Linked DNA regions of Homo sapiens. The protein of the gene in region 3 interacts with the protein of the main gene of each other region in a pairwise test. Each region holds a gene or a part of one and is shown on either strand. Other genes may lie near its edges.

Evidence for each region. The genes of interacting proteins can lie anywhere in the genome.
Region 1: the proteins of ZNF444 (region 3) and SPRED1 interact in binary tests that used the Homo sapiens proteins (3 or more experiments, as listed by UniProt).
Region 2: the proteins of ZNF444 (region 3) and LMO3 interact in binary tests that used the Homo sapiens proteins (3 or more experiments, as listed by UniProt).
Region 4: the proteins of ZNF444 (region 3) and NDUFV2 interact in binary tests that used the Homo sapiens proteins (3 or more experiments, as listed by UniProt).

The regions. Positions count from the first base shown.
Region 1 is NC_000015.10:38,318,836-38,322,335, reverse strand, and holds part of SPRED1 (sprouty-related, EVH1 domain-containing protein 1), read right to left. Parts: intron 96-3,500; coding exon 1-95. UniProt on the Homo sapiens protein: Tyrosine kinase substrate that inhibits growth-factor-mediated activation of MAP kinase. Negatively regulates hematopoiesis of bone marrow.
Region 2 is NC_000012.12:16,547,872-16,551,017, forward strand, and holds the end of LMO3 (LIM domain only protein 3), read right to left. Parts: 3' UTR 501-3,146; downstream 1-500.
Region 3 is NC_000019.10:56,144,287-56,147,786, reverse strand, and holds part of ZNF444 (zinc finger protein 444), read right to left. Parts: exon of another isoform or gene 1,938-3,500; intron 1,541-1,937; 5' UTR 1,367-1,540; intron 898-1,366; 5' UTR 876-897; coding exon 579-875; intron 1-578. UniProt on the Homo sapiens protein: Transcriptional regulator. Binds to the 5'-flanking critical region of the SCARF1 promoter.
Region 4 is NC_000018.10:9,126,699-9,130,198, forward strand, and holds part of NDUFV2 (NADH dehydrogenase [ubiquinone] flavoprotein 2, mitochondrial precursor), read left to right. Parts: intron 1-132; coding exon 133-209; intron 210-3,500.

The sequences.
Region 1 (3,500 bases), on a different chromosome or scaffold from region 3:
AGACCAAACTTCTTGTCATCAATCTTCCAGTGGTGAAATGTTGGAGTGACCTTATTATAAATGAGGTCTTTTTTAAGCATACATTCCAAAACCACCTGACAAAAGCCAAATACCAAAAATTAATATACATATATCAAATGCATCTAATGTAGCTCATAAATACAAACTGAGGTGATACAACGCTATTACTTTTTAATGAATAATTTTTAGTATTTTAAATAAAGTGGTCTACTTCACAAAGTCACTCAATAAAGAGATTAAGATGGAATAAAAAAATGCACATTATAAACAGGATGCTTATTATACTCCCATTTTAAGAATACACACATATATACACTCCCATTGCATACAAAATTTCTGGAGGAATATATCAGGAATTACTTCCAGGAAACAGGCAGGGGGTTGGTAATAATAGAAATTTAACTTTTTAAAGTCATTTTTGGCTGGGGGCAGTGGCTCACACCTGTAATCCCAGCACTTTGGGAGGCCGAGGCGGGCGGATCACTTGAAATCAGGAGTTTGAGACCAGCGTGGCCAACATGGTGAAACCCCATCTCTACTAAAAATATAAAAAATTAGCTGGGTGTGGAGGTACATGCCTGTAATCCCAGCTACTCAGGAGGCTGAGGCAGGAGAATCGTCTGAGCCCAGGAGGTGGAGGTTGCAGTGAGTTGAGATCACGTCACTGCACTCCAACCTGGGCAACACAGTGAGACTTTGTCTCAAAAACAAAACAAAACAAAATAAAGTCATTTTCCTAAACTTCTTAAAAGACGTATTTATATTTTGTGTAAGGATTTAATGGTCACAGCAGTAAAACAAATACACTTGGCCACTTTTTCAAAATATGCATTTAAGTGAGTTACCTAACTTTTGAAGCCTTAGTTTACTCATCTGTAAAACAGAAATTGCAGTACTAAAATATCCCAGAGCTTAGAGTGGAATGACCGAATGTGCATTCATGTTAAGAGCTTCATGCAATGCATGAAGCAATATACCCTTGGTTTTTAAATTTTTTATTTTGAAAGTATTTCAAATTTGTAGAAAAGTAACAAGAATAACACAGAAAATTCCTGTTTTCCCTTTATCCAGATTTATCACATTAATTTTTAACATTCTCTCCACATATATCCATGTATAAACATTTAATTTACTTTATTATGAACTATTTCAAAGGAGTTACATATATTATGTTCTACTGCTCTTTAATACACACTTGAGTATATTTCCTAAGTGCAATACTATTCTCTTATGTAATCACAGTATGGTGATCTCATTCAGGAAATTTAAAACCAACACAGAACTTTAATCTATAGACCATGTTCCATAGACCACGTTCCACTTTTGCCTACTATACTAATAACACCTTTTAGAGCATTTTAAAAATCCTTCCAGTATAGGATCCATTCCAGGACAGTTATAAGGTCTCTTCAGTCTTTCGTTCCTGGGCCTGTCTTTCATCATATTCACAGTATGCTTTTAATATATGTTAGTTGTCAAATAAAACAAAAGTGGATATATTAGTGATCTTTGCAATTAATCTAATAAAAAGACTAGAACTACACACCTTAATTATTTTAAGAATCCCCTATAAGAAAACAGGAGGAAAAGAATTAAAAATAATTCAAATGAAACCCATAGTAGCACATGACACATAATAAATGCTCAGCTGGTATTTGGTGAAAGGTTGTATTTTCATTACCTCCACTCTTTTCCAATCACCATTATCACTTGCACATCTCTTCCATGCACTGCTGATGATCCCCTCAGATATTACTAGTAGTAGTGAATTACTAATAGTAATTGCACTACTCTGCAGGTAGAGTAATAATTTTTCTTAAAAAAAAATAGCAACTTTACTGGACCACTCCCTAGTTTCAATGTCTTTTCAATGCTTTCAAGACTAAAATTCTTACTATGACCTACTAGGCCCTGCATGAGCTGGTCTTTGTCTGTTTGCCAAATCCTTAAACTACAGTGGCAGACAAACATTAGGTACTCAACCAATACTTCTCCTCAGAAATCTTTTAGGCTTTATGCACTTCCCAAGGAACTCATTCACAGATCATGGACTAGGAATCTCTAATTTATACTTTTGGAGGGGAGGTCTGCTAGAGTCTGCTTATACTGGCTCCCAAGAGCCAGATATTAAATTTTCAAGAATTTTGGAAGCCATTGTTAAAAGCTAGAATATATAACTCTACAATGAAATAAATTGCATTAAAAATAAAATAATAAATACACAAAACTCATCAGTTCCTAATTATTTTACTATATTTTTACAATTACCTAGGTTCTTGAGGTAGTTTATGTCTGTCATATCTGTACGGTGGAAATACTATATAATGCCACACTGCTGCTCATTTCTTCCCAATGCTATATGCAATGATGGCATGTTGAGTAAAAGCAGCCATGGTAGAGGTATGTAAATGCTATAAATCATTGACTTGTGTCCCCTCTTGAAAGCTGATTGTTAAACCTTTTATCAGCATACCACTGAATATAATAATTCTTGGTAGTAAGTTTTATTAATTCAGAAATAACCAAAAATGTGACTAAGGTTCAGTCCTGCCCGTTTATAGGCAATGCAGTGAAATTCTCTCAAGACTTTTGCTTCCTATACTTTGATGACTCTATGTGTATTAGAAAAGAATTAACCGCCAGGCACAGTGGCTCACGCCTGTAATCCCAGCCCTGTGGGAGGCTGAGGCGGGTGGATCAACTGAGGTCAGGAGTTCAAGACCATCCTGACCAACATAGTGAAACCCGTCTCCACTAAAATACAAAAATTAGCCGGGCGTGGTGGTGGGAACCTGTAATCTCAGCTACTCGAGAGGCTGAGCCAGGAGAATCACTTCAACCTGGGAGGCAGAGGTTGCAGTGAGCCGAGATCATGCCATTGCACTCCAGCCTAGGCAGCAAGAGTAAAACTCTGTCTCAAAAAAAGAAAATAATTTACATGTATCCAGAGCTTTTTTGAGTCGGCACTTTGCTAAAGCATTTTACACAGATTTACTATTAAATATTTGTTACAACCATTTTGCAACAACAACAACAATTCACGATTAAGTTCTAGAATTCAAGGGGAAGTAAATGGTAGTGTCATAAATTACTGCAACATTTATACTATATTCATAAACAGTGGGAAAAGCAGTATTTTGTAAAACAATGCTAAATTGGAATTGTTAAAAAGGGGAAGACATAAAAACAGTTTGATTCTAGTTTTTTAATATATAATAATAACACCAAATTAATTTTTAATACATGAAAATATTACTGAATTAGCCCCCTCTTCTATTTTACAAAATTAATATTTTCAACTATTAACTCTCAAATAAAATTTCAATGTGATCTACCCTAATCTTGTCTTCAAATGGCATCTATTGTTTAGAGCCTCCCAACACTCACAGAAAAAGTAGTTTTAAAAATAAGTTCAAGCACTATTCACAATAGCAAAGACATGGAATCAACCTAGGTGTCCATCAATGGTGGATTAAATA
Region 2 (3,146 bases), on a different chromosome or scaffold from region 3:
GTGATGATTCAGAGAGTGGTTTGCCTAAAGTGATAGTTAAAAGGAAAACACTTTTGCATGGCATGTTTTACTACAGATATAATTTTCAGTGCCCTGTTTCAGTTAAGGTGCAACATCTCTTCTGTAAAAATGTAGAATTGAGTTTCCTGTTTTAATTCATTATACAGAATAGAAAATTTGAAATTTAATCTGACAACAGCAACAGAGTTGCTTTCAGAAAGATCACCTAAAATTTGTATAAATGTGCAAAATTACACCCAGCAATTGCTACCTTCATTTTTGAGAGTTTTATTTTCCCCATAAAAATAAATAGCGGTAAACGACCTAGCGCAGAGATCCTAAACATTACATTCAGAGAAACATTTGGGGTGCTTTGTCTATGCTTGTTATGACTTAGCTTTAGAAAGTAAATGTCCTTACACACCTTTTTTTTCTTTTCATGGACTTAACATATGCTTTCTAGAGATCATCTTAAATTTTGCCAATTAAGTGCAATCAAATAGTGTAACACCCCTTTTATTAAAAACATAAATCCAAATGTAAAAAAGTGAATGAAAGAATCCAGCAGATATTTATTAAGCAAGATGAAAGTGAAATTACAAACACAGGTCAACTTTTAAACTCAGCACTCTGTTGGAGTGGAGGTGCACGGTCCTTCATCATAGGCAGCCTATGCGAGATGCATCTTAGGAAGGGAGCTTTCGCTGCTCAGAAATCAAAGCTCCATCGGAGGTGTCCTACTGGAGGCATCAGACAACAAGCTAAATGACGTTAGGGCTACACAACACAAAGGGGAAAGTTGACAACAATTCAGGGGCTTTGAGTAGTCAAGACAATTAGCTTAGTACTTCAGGTCAATAAATGCTACAATTTATGGGCAATTAGCTGTAAAATGGCCTACAGCTGAAACACTATTCTTGTCTTATTTCACGATTTCATGGAGATTAAAGATAATCTAAACAGATTAAGGCCTTAATCTTTAATCCAGGTGAGTAATTTTGTTTGTAGTAAAAAGCATAAGAAATAATTCTCAGCATATTATGTAAAAGAAAAAGCAGTGAAAACCTTGTTTGGTCTTCCAGTGGCAAGGATAGTTGAACAACTTCAAGAAGCTGAGAGAAGTTTGTTCCCAATTTACAAGTATTTTGACATATAGATAAACAAAAGCAAAACCAGTTAAACCTTAAAAGATCATCTGAATAAGATCCTGACAATTATAATTTTACATCCATGTGAATTTCAAGCAATTGTTAATGGGGACCAGCAGGGCTGCATTAAGAAAACCACTTTTCACTGATCTCTCCCCCACATATTTTTAATTTGTCTTGCTTTGTTTATTTTGGTTATGCAAGTCCTTTCTCTTCATGAAACAAGTGTAAGGCTCTAAGGCTAAAATAATAGTTATTTTTGTGGGCCCCAAATAGCTACTTTTGAATTTCTTTCTTTAGTATATCTCAAATCTGGGGAACATGGAACTTGAAGACTCCTAACCATGAAGCATTTGGAAAAATACATATCATTCACTTTTCACAGAACCATTTTCTTAAAAATAAGAGGCAATATCCAGATTCACATGCATGTTCATAATAAAGCTTTGTTTTAAAACAAATCCACACCAGCATTATTTTCAGCTTAATATTTTGGCCCCAACCCAAGAATTCAGGTATAACATTTAATTTTCATCTGTAATGCATATATTGGAAGGACAAAATATATATGCAAATAACACTGGAAAATATTGTTTCCTATACAAGTGATCAAGAAAAAAACAAAGAAAAAGAAAACCCATAGCACTAAGTTTGCTGTAGTGAAAATATGGTTAACGGTGCCGTGCAAAATTAGATTTGTTGAAAAGTAGTTCTATTACAGGGAGCAAAAGCAAAGAAGCAAGTTTGTGGGCAACTCGGAAGAGGGGATCATATTCTCATTTCCTTAATTGTAATTTAAATAATCATTCTCCATAATTTCTCTTTCTAGAGCTTTCTTCTTTGTATGCTATCACGTAAGGTAGTACTATTTCACCTTAAAAAATGGAAAGACAAATTTCAGCCTAAGAATGATGTATTCTGAGTTGGCAATTACTTAAAACAATGAGAGAGTAAAACACATCAAACTTAAAGTGTTTACTTTTTGAACATTAAAATAAATGTCAGGTAAATACAGAAAAATATATAATCACTAGTTCTCAGCATTTTATCAATCCCTTTGTTTCTCTTCTTCTAGAAGATTCTATGAGCATTATGTTGCTCCGATCAAAAGTAACCTCACTACTCAAATACCATCATAGCTTCAATGTGCATTATAGTGATTTCAGTAGATTCACACTCAAATCTTTTCAGTGTCATACATTTATTAAGCCATAAAGTTATGAAACCCTCAGCTCTTGTGGAGAGATCTGGGCAGAATTTATACAAGAAGAAGTTTAATTTATCACTTAAAAATCATCTCATAATTGTGGTAACAGATTTTTAAAGTAACCCTTTGGAAAAAATTTTACGTGATACCCAAAGGCACTAGTTCACATAAGGGGTGTGGCTGAAAAAGCAAAACAAAGCCATTGTGTAAGTAAAGAGCACACAAAAAAAGGATATTAAAAGGAAACCTGTTAAGCTTTAAAGTTATTCTAAAAATGGCACTTTTCACGTTGGTATAAAATGAAAGTGCTTTAAGATGAAATTTTTATGTATTTTTTTAAAGCTGATTTTTAACCCCCTGAAAATAGGGGGTTATAACAAGAACACTGATAGACTCTAACTCATAGCGGCAATAAGTAGTGGATGTCACTAAAATGCTCTGTGTGTGTCTTTATTTTTTAGTATTTTTAATGTTGATAGACTTGCTTTATCTATCTGTGTATCATTAGTGAGATTTGCTTTTCAATTCTTTACTAGAAAGTTACAGCTCATTTAAAATAGCTGGTAAATACAGAAAGCATAAATATACAGTAAGTTTAAACACTGATTGTACTAAATGCAACAATACAAAGAAGCAAATGGAACACAAATGGTAACACAATAAAACTGTATTACATTTGTGCTTCAAATATTACAATACATTATATACAATAGTCCAAAATAAACATCTCATGCCAAGTGACACAAAAACGAATAGCAAGCAAAAAAATCCAGCCATATGTACATTACTTT
Region 3 (3,500 bases):
CCTCACGCATGATAAGGAGGGTCTGCCTGCCCCGGGGGACTCAGGCCAGCCCAAAAGCAAGATGAATTTGGGGTAGAGTTTGGACCAGGGGGTATCCTTGACTTTCAGGGGGCGGGAGGCTGAGGTCAGCCACACAGAACGGGGAGGAGTCCCCAGTAAGAACCCAGGACACCACGGTCTGAGGAGAATTCCTGGCCGGCAAGACCCCCTGCGTGCGGGCGGGGTGCGGGGAGAGGACAGCTGGTAACTGCGCTCCCTGGAGCCTTCGTGGCCTTCTTCCCAGCTGCTTCCAGCACGTCCTTCTCTGATAAGCCGTGACCGTGAACACGGCTGTGAGTCCTAGAGAACTCGCAAGTATGCCAGGGTCTTGGGGCCCTCCTGACTTGCAGCTGGTGTGGGGATGGAGGGTGCCGCACGTGGACTGTCCCTCCACGCTGTACCGCAGCCTGTACCGCAGCCTCCCCACCGCGAGTCACACTGGTTTTCAGGGGTTCAGTGGTGCTCCTCCCTGGGCTTCCTGGTGGCTTCCCTGGCACCTTCCCCTCTCCCTTCCCCGCTTGCAGTCCCGCCAGGCTCACCCAGAGCTCCTCCAGCAGGGCCACCGCCTCCTCCCCGCTCTGCGGCTGCCGGCTGCACACCCAGGCCTGCGTGTCGGCGGGCAGCGCGCTCAGGAACTGTTCCAGCACCAGCAGCTCCAACATCTGCTCCTTGGTGTGCACCTCGGGCCGCAGCCAGTCCCGGCACAGGGCGCGGAGCAGCCCCAGCGCCTCCCGCGGGCCCGGCGCGTCGCCCAGGTGGAAGCGGCGGAAGCGGTGCCACGGGGAGTCCAGCGCCAGGCCCTCGGCCTCCTGCTTCACGGGCACCGCCACCTCCATGGGGCCTCCCGGACCGCAGCGCCTGCAGGGAACAAGCCGGTGAGACCCCTGCCCGCCGAGACCCTGCCCGCGGTGCCCAGACTCACAATGGGACCAACGCTCTTTTTTTTTACTTTTTATTTTTTGAGACGGAGTTTCGCTCTTTCCCCCAGGTTGGAGTGCAGTGGCGGATCTCAGCTTACTGCAACCTCAGCTCCCGGGTTCAGGCGATTCTCCTGCCTTGGCTTCCTGAGTAGCGGGAATTACAGGCATCCGCCACCACGCCTGCTAATTTTTATATTTTTAGTAGAGATGGGGTTTCACCATGTTGGCCAGGCTGATCTCAAACTCCTGACCCCAGGTGATCCGCCCACCTCGGCCTCCCAAAGTGCTGGGAATTACAGGCGTGAGCCACTGCACCCGGCCTGGGACCCGCGCTTCTGAGCCGCCCACATACCCAGGATAGGCCCGGCCTCTGTGCCTCGGTTTCCCCTGTAAGATAAAGCACTCACCTGCTCTGCCTGGCCCAGGGGGCAAAGAGGTCTCTGTGAGGGGGCAGCGCTCACTCGGGTGGTGAGGAAAGGGTGTGCCCTTCCTGGGATCCCAGGGAGTCAAGTCCAGGCTGGGTCCTGCCCTGGGCCCCTGGCCTCTGTACCTCAGTCCTGCAGCTCCTCCCGCAGCCTGTCCTGAGGATTCAACCAGAAAACACAGAAAGAGCTTGCAGCAGGCCTGGCAGCAGCAGGTCACCATCAGCACCACCCTCACTGGACTTGTGGGGCCGTGCACCCCACACCCTGGGAGCAGACACTTTGCAGCCTACTCAGAAGCCACCCCAACTAACTGCTGTGGCCTGAATTTGTCTCCCAAAATTCACATGTGGAAGCTCTCACCCCAGTGTGACCGTATTTGGAGACGAAGCTTTTAACTGGTAATGAAAGTTAACTGAGGTCACAAGGGCTGGGCCTAATAGGGCTGTGGCCTTATAAGAGAAAGGGACACCGGGACTCTGTCCATCTCTGCCAGCAGGAGCACACAGCAAGGAGGCCACCTGCAGCCTGGCAGAGGCCCTCACCAGGAACTGACCATGATGGCATTCTGAGCTTCCCGCTCCCAGAACTGAGAAATAAGCTCATAGCAGTTCAGTCCACGGTGCTCCGCTATGACAGCTATGACGGCCTGTCCCAGTCCCTTCCGCTGGGAATTTGCGATCTGGGTGCCAGCACTGTCGGGTTCTGGTGAGCACCTCTTCCAGGCTGCCGACGGCCTCCTTTTGTGTCCTCCCATGGCGTAGAATAGAGAGAGGCAGCGAGCTCTCCTGTCTCTATTTTTTTTTTTAATTTTTGTTTTGAGATGGAGTCTCGCTCTGTTGCCCAGGATGGAGTGCAATGGTGCGATCTTGGTTCACTGCAACCTCCGCCTCCCAGGGTCAAGCGATTCTCCTGCCTCATCCTCCCAAGTAGCTGGGATTATAGACGTGCGTTACCACGTCCGGATAATTTTTGTATTTTTAGTAGAGACGGGGTTTCGCCAGGTTGGCCAGACTGGTCTCAAACTCCTGACCTCAGGTGATCCACCTGCCTTGGCCTCCGAAAGTGCTGGGATTACCGGCATGAGCCACCACGCCCAGCCGTGATTGCCATTTTTAAATGCATTAATAAATACTTTACAATTTTCTGTTTTGGTTTCTACTATGATACGTAACAATAGATATGACTCCCATCAATAAAAGCATGTTAGGGTCTTCAGTAATTTTGAAGGCAGAAAGGAGTCCTGACTTCAAAGCATTTGAGAAATGGTGGTCTCTGAGCTGGTGGGCCGAATCTGGCCTGCAGCCTGTTTTACTTAAGTCTCACTGGCGCACATCCACGCCCACTTGCTCACGCGCTGTCCACGGCCGCCTTGGAGCTACCGAGTGGCTGTGACAGGGCCTGGGTGGCCTGTAAGGCTGTCCACAGAGCCAAAGATAGTCACTCGCTGGCTCTTTACAGGACAAGACTGCCGGCCCCTGACCTCAAGGACACTGGAAGATCAAGACAGAAGGGACCCTGATGACCCCATGGGGCTCAGGCGCCAGCCCGCCCCAGAACACCTCTGGAGTATTATGGGAGAAAAGAATCAGTTCTGTCCTATGTGGAGCCCTGTACTTGGGGTCTCTTCATTACAGCAGCTTGGACTGTATCATAAGGAACTATATAGCAAAGTCCCCTTGACCACAAGGCAGAGGGTGGGCACATAATCTGCTTCTAGCCGGTGAGGTCTGAGAGGAAGTCTGTGTTCAGACAATTTTCCTCCTGATACAACCAAAGCCTGGGCTCCTGACCGCCATGTCACTAACCACAAACGTCATCTCATTGCTGGGACGGCTGCCACAAGACCCGTGTATGCCTACTCTCGCCACCTAGAGCCAAATCACTCCACAGTGATCACAAAAACTTTTTCACTGTAAATCCCTGTCACTTCCTTGCTCAGTGCCCTCCAACTGCTTCCTGTGATGCTCAAAACCCAAATTGCTTACTATGGCCATGAGACCATGCAGCCCAGCCCTACTTTCTCATCTCTGCCTGCTCCCAGATTCTCTATACTCCAGCCACAATGGATCCCTTTTTTTCTTTTTTCTTTTTTTTAAGACAGGGTCTCTCTCTGTCG
Region 4 (3,500 bases), on a different chromosome or scaffold from region 3:
CTGAGGTAGGAGGATTGCTTAAGCCCAGGAGTTGGAGACCAGCCTGGGCAACATAGTGAGACCTTGTCTCTATAAATATATCGATATAAAAGAAAGTAATTTAAATATGACTATTGTTAATTTTTTTTCCAGGAGGATTTGACAGCTAAGGATATTGAAGAAATTATTGATGAGCTCAAGGCTGGCAAAATCCCAAAACCAGGGCCAAGGTATGCTTTATTTATATATAGGAAGTTTTAGTGGCTCACCTAAATTAATCTTTCAGATAAACTTGATTTAAAAAATTTTATACCTTAAGTTCATAGGAATTGGTAGGAGCTTTGGATAGTATTATCTATATGAATCTCATCTAGAGCAAGAATAATTTTTTTTCTAAAACCCTGTCTGATAATCATCCGATACCTGAATATTTATAGAGAAGGAAATTTTACTACAAATAGAAATCTATTCCATTATTTAAAAGTTCATACTGATAGAAGATTGACCCAAAGACCATCTCCCTCTAATTTCTACCTAAAAATCCAATTCTGCCCTTTGAATCAACAAAAGATAATTTTAGTACCTCTTCCAAATGACAGCTCTTCAATTACTTGAAATAGCTACCCTGTCTTCCCCTTATCTTTTTCTCAGATGGAATATCCACAATTGTTTCATTGTTTTTCTCATATGACATAGCTTTGGTCTCCCTCTGTGGGTTTTCTAGTTGGCTAGTGACTATTTAATGCTTTAATGTGATGCTTAAACTAATCATGGTTTTTTGTCTTTTTTATTTATTTATATTTTGAGACGGAGTCTCACTCCGTCACCCAGTCTGGAGTACAGTGGCGCAGTGGCACAATCTCAGCTCAGTGCAAGCTCCACCTCCCAGGTAGAAGTGATTCCCCTGTCTCAGCCTCCCGAGTAGCTGGGATTACAGGTGCCAGCCACCACGCCCGGCTAATTTTTTGTATTTTTAGTAGTGACGGGGTTTCACTGTATTAGCCAGGATGGTCTCCGATCTCCTGACCTCGTGATCTGCCCGCTTCAGACTCCCAAAGTGCTGGGATTACAGGCATGAGCCACTGTGCCCGGCCTAATCATGGTATTTTGAGATACATACTGAGCAGCACAGAGCATTGTGGGACTGCCTCCTTTGTTCCAGACATTATGCTTGTAATAATTGTGCCTAATTATATCAACTCCTACTTCAGAGACATTACACAATTAACTGCACTTCATAATACCTAGATCTTTTTCTGTTCACTATTTATCCAGGTTGCTCCCGTCCCATACCTGTGTTACATTAATTACTTTCCTTTCAGTTATGAACTTGGATTTTCACTTTTAAACAAACCCTTATTCCATGTATGTGTTCAATCACTCAAAATTCTCTCTTAATACTAGCAAATGTTCTCATGGTTTTAGTCATAATCCCTCAAATTTTTTGTTTATGTATATAAATTTTTTCTTCCCTCAGCACATTTGGAGTTTTTGATGTCCATACGGTATTCTAATGTTTTAAAACAGCTGTGATGTGCTCTTACTCCCGTTTTAAAATATTTTTCTTAAGCTTTATTATAAATAACAATTCCCTGAAGTAGAATTACTAAGAGGGTATGAGTGGTTCTAGAGTTTGCTCTCTAAAACTACTAATAATACCCTACTTAATGAGAAAATGAGGTCAGTTCAGGATAACTTAAGTTTAGTAAATGCTAGCTGGCCCCTGTTGACCATTACTTTCTTTTCTAAGAAACGTATACTGTTCTTAACAACCTGAGCCTATAGAATTGAATTTGCTTAAAGAGTGTTGGCATTTTCTTCCTAATTCCTCACTTTCTTGGGTATACCCCTTTTTTTAGGAGGTAAATCATTTCCCTGGTGAAAAATCATTCTCCTTTATGGAGGCAACTGAAGTAAAACCTTTAGTCATCTATCATTACAGTATCTTTCTTAGCTAGTGCTCCTATCCCTTACTTATTCTTGCTTTAAATAGACACTGTCCCCCCAAAAAGTACAAATTTCATAATATTTTCCACAAGCTTCATCTGCTTTTTAGGATTCAGGTATTTTAAAATAAATTCATGCTATTCTTAGGTTTGTACTTCAGCCCATAACTTCTTTCACCTTTTGGGTACTCTAAAGAATATCTCAAGTGCAGATTTCCTTGTGAAATCCACTTGGGTTCTTTAGATGGCCCCTCTCTTCTGATTAGATGTTTTGAATTCTATAGTCATAACTTTGGTGTTGGGCTTCCTCCCCCCCACTCCTCCCCTCACCCGAGATGGAGTCTTGCTCTGTCACTTAGGCTATAGTGCAGTGGTGTGATCTCGACTCACTGCAACTTCTGCCTCCCAGGCTCAAGCGATTCTCCTGCCTCAGTCTCCCGAGCAGCTGGGACTATAAGAACGTGCCACCACCATGCCCAGCTAATTTTTGTATTTTTAGTAGAGACGGGGTTTTACCATGTTGGCCAGGGTGGTCTCGAACTCCTGACCTCAAGTGATCTGCCTGCCTTGGCCTCCCAAAGTGCTGGGATTACAGGCTTGAGCCACCACGCCCGGCCACTTTGGCGTTTAGAATCTTCTGCTTTGCTTCTTGTGAACTGTGGGATCTATGGTTCATATTAATCTAGTATTACTCTCCTGCCACACAAATTGATACCTGCTTTGTCTACTTTGTTATGTCACATTACATTAAATACTCAACAGTAATTTTTTTCACAAATTTTTTTGAGTGCCTGCTGTGTGTCAGGCATTATTTTAGGTTATGAATACAATTATGAACAAGATAAAGTTCTCATATATCTTCTAGTGATGGAGACAGATGACTAGTGTAATATGTGAGTGATAAAAAGGCTACACAATAAAATGTAGCAGGTGTTAGGGGATAGATAGGGAGTAAATTTAGTGAGGAGAGGCCGCTTAGAGGTGGTAACATTTGAGCCATGACCTGAATGAAGAGCTAGAGGGAACCATGTAAAGAGCTGAAGGAACAATGTTCCAGGGAGGGGAAAGAGGATGTATCAGGGTCCTGGAAGAAAAGTAAGGTAACAGTATGGCTGCAGTGAGGTGCTCAAGCAAGAAAGCAGTGGAAGGGGTCAGAGGAGATAAGGGCCCAGATAAGTAATCTGGGCTGAATCTTAAATATAATAAAAACTGTTGGAATGTTTTCAGTAGGGAATGGAATGAGCAATCTTAAAATACTGCCATAGTTGCTATGTGGAGATTAGAATTTAGTAGATATGTGGGACTAAGGATTTATGAGTGATTTTCAGCTTTTTGGCTTGAGCATCTCTGAGGTTCCTTTACCGAAAATAGAGAAGATTTGTGGTAGGGCAAGTTTGGGGAAGAAAAGTCAAATTTTGTTTTAGACATAGTAAGTTTGAGATGCCTGTTAAGACATCCATGGTATGATGCTGATAGGTAGATACGAACCTGGAATATAGGGAATAGGTTAGGGCTGGAAACACAAATTGGGGATTCATCAGTTACTAAGGGTAGTATTTAAAGTTATAAATCTGG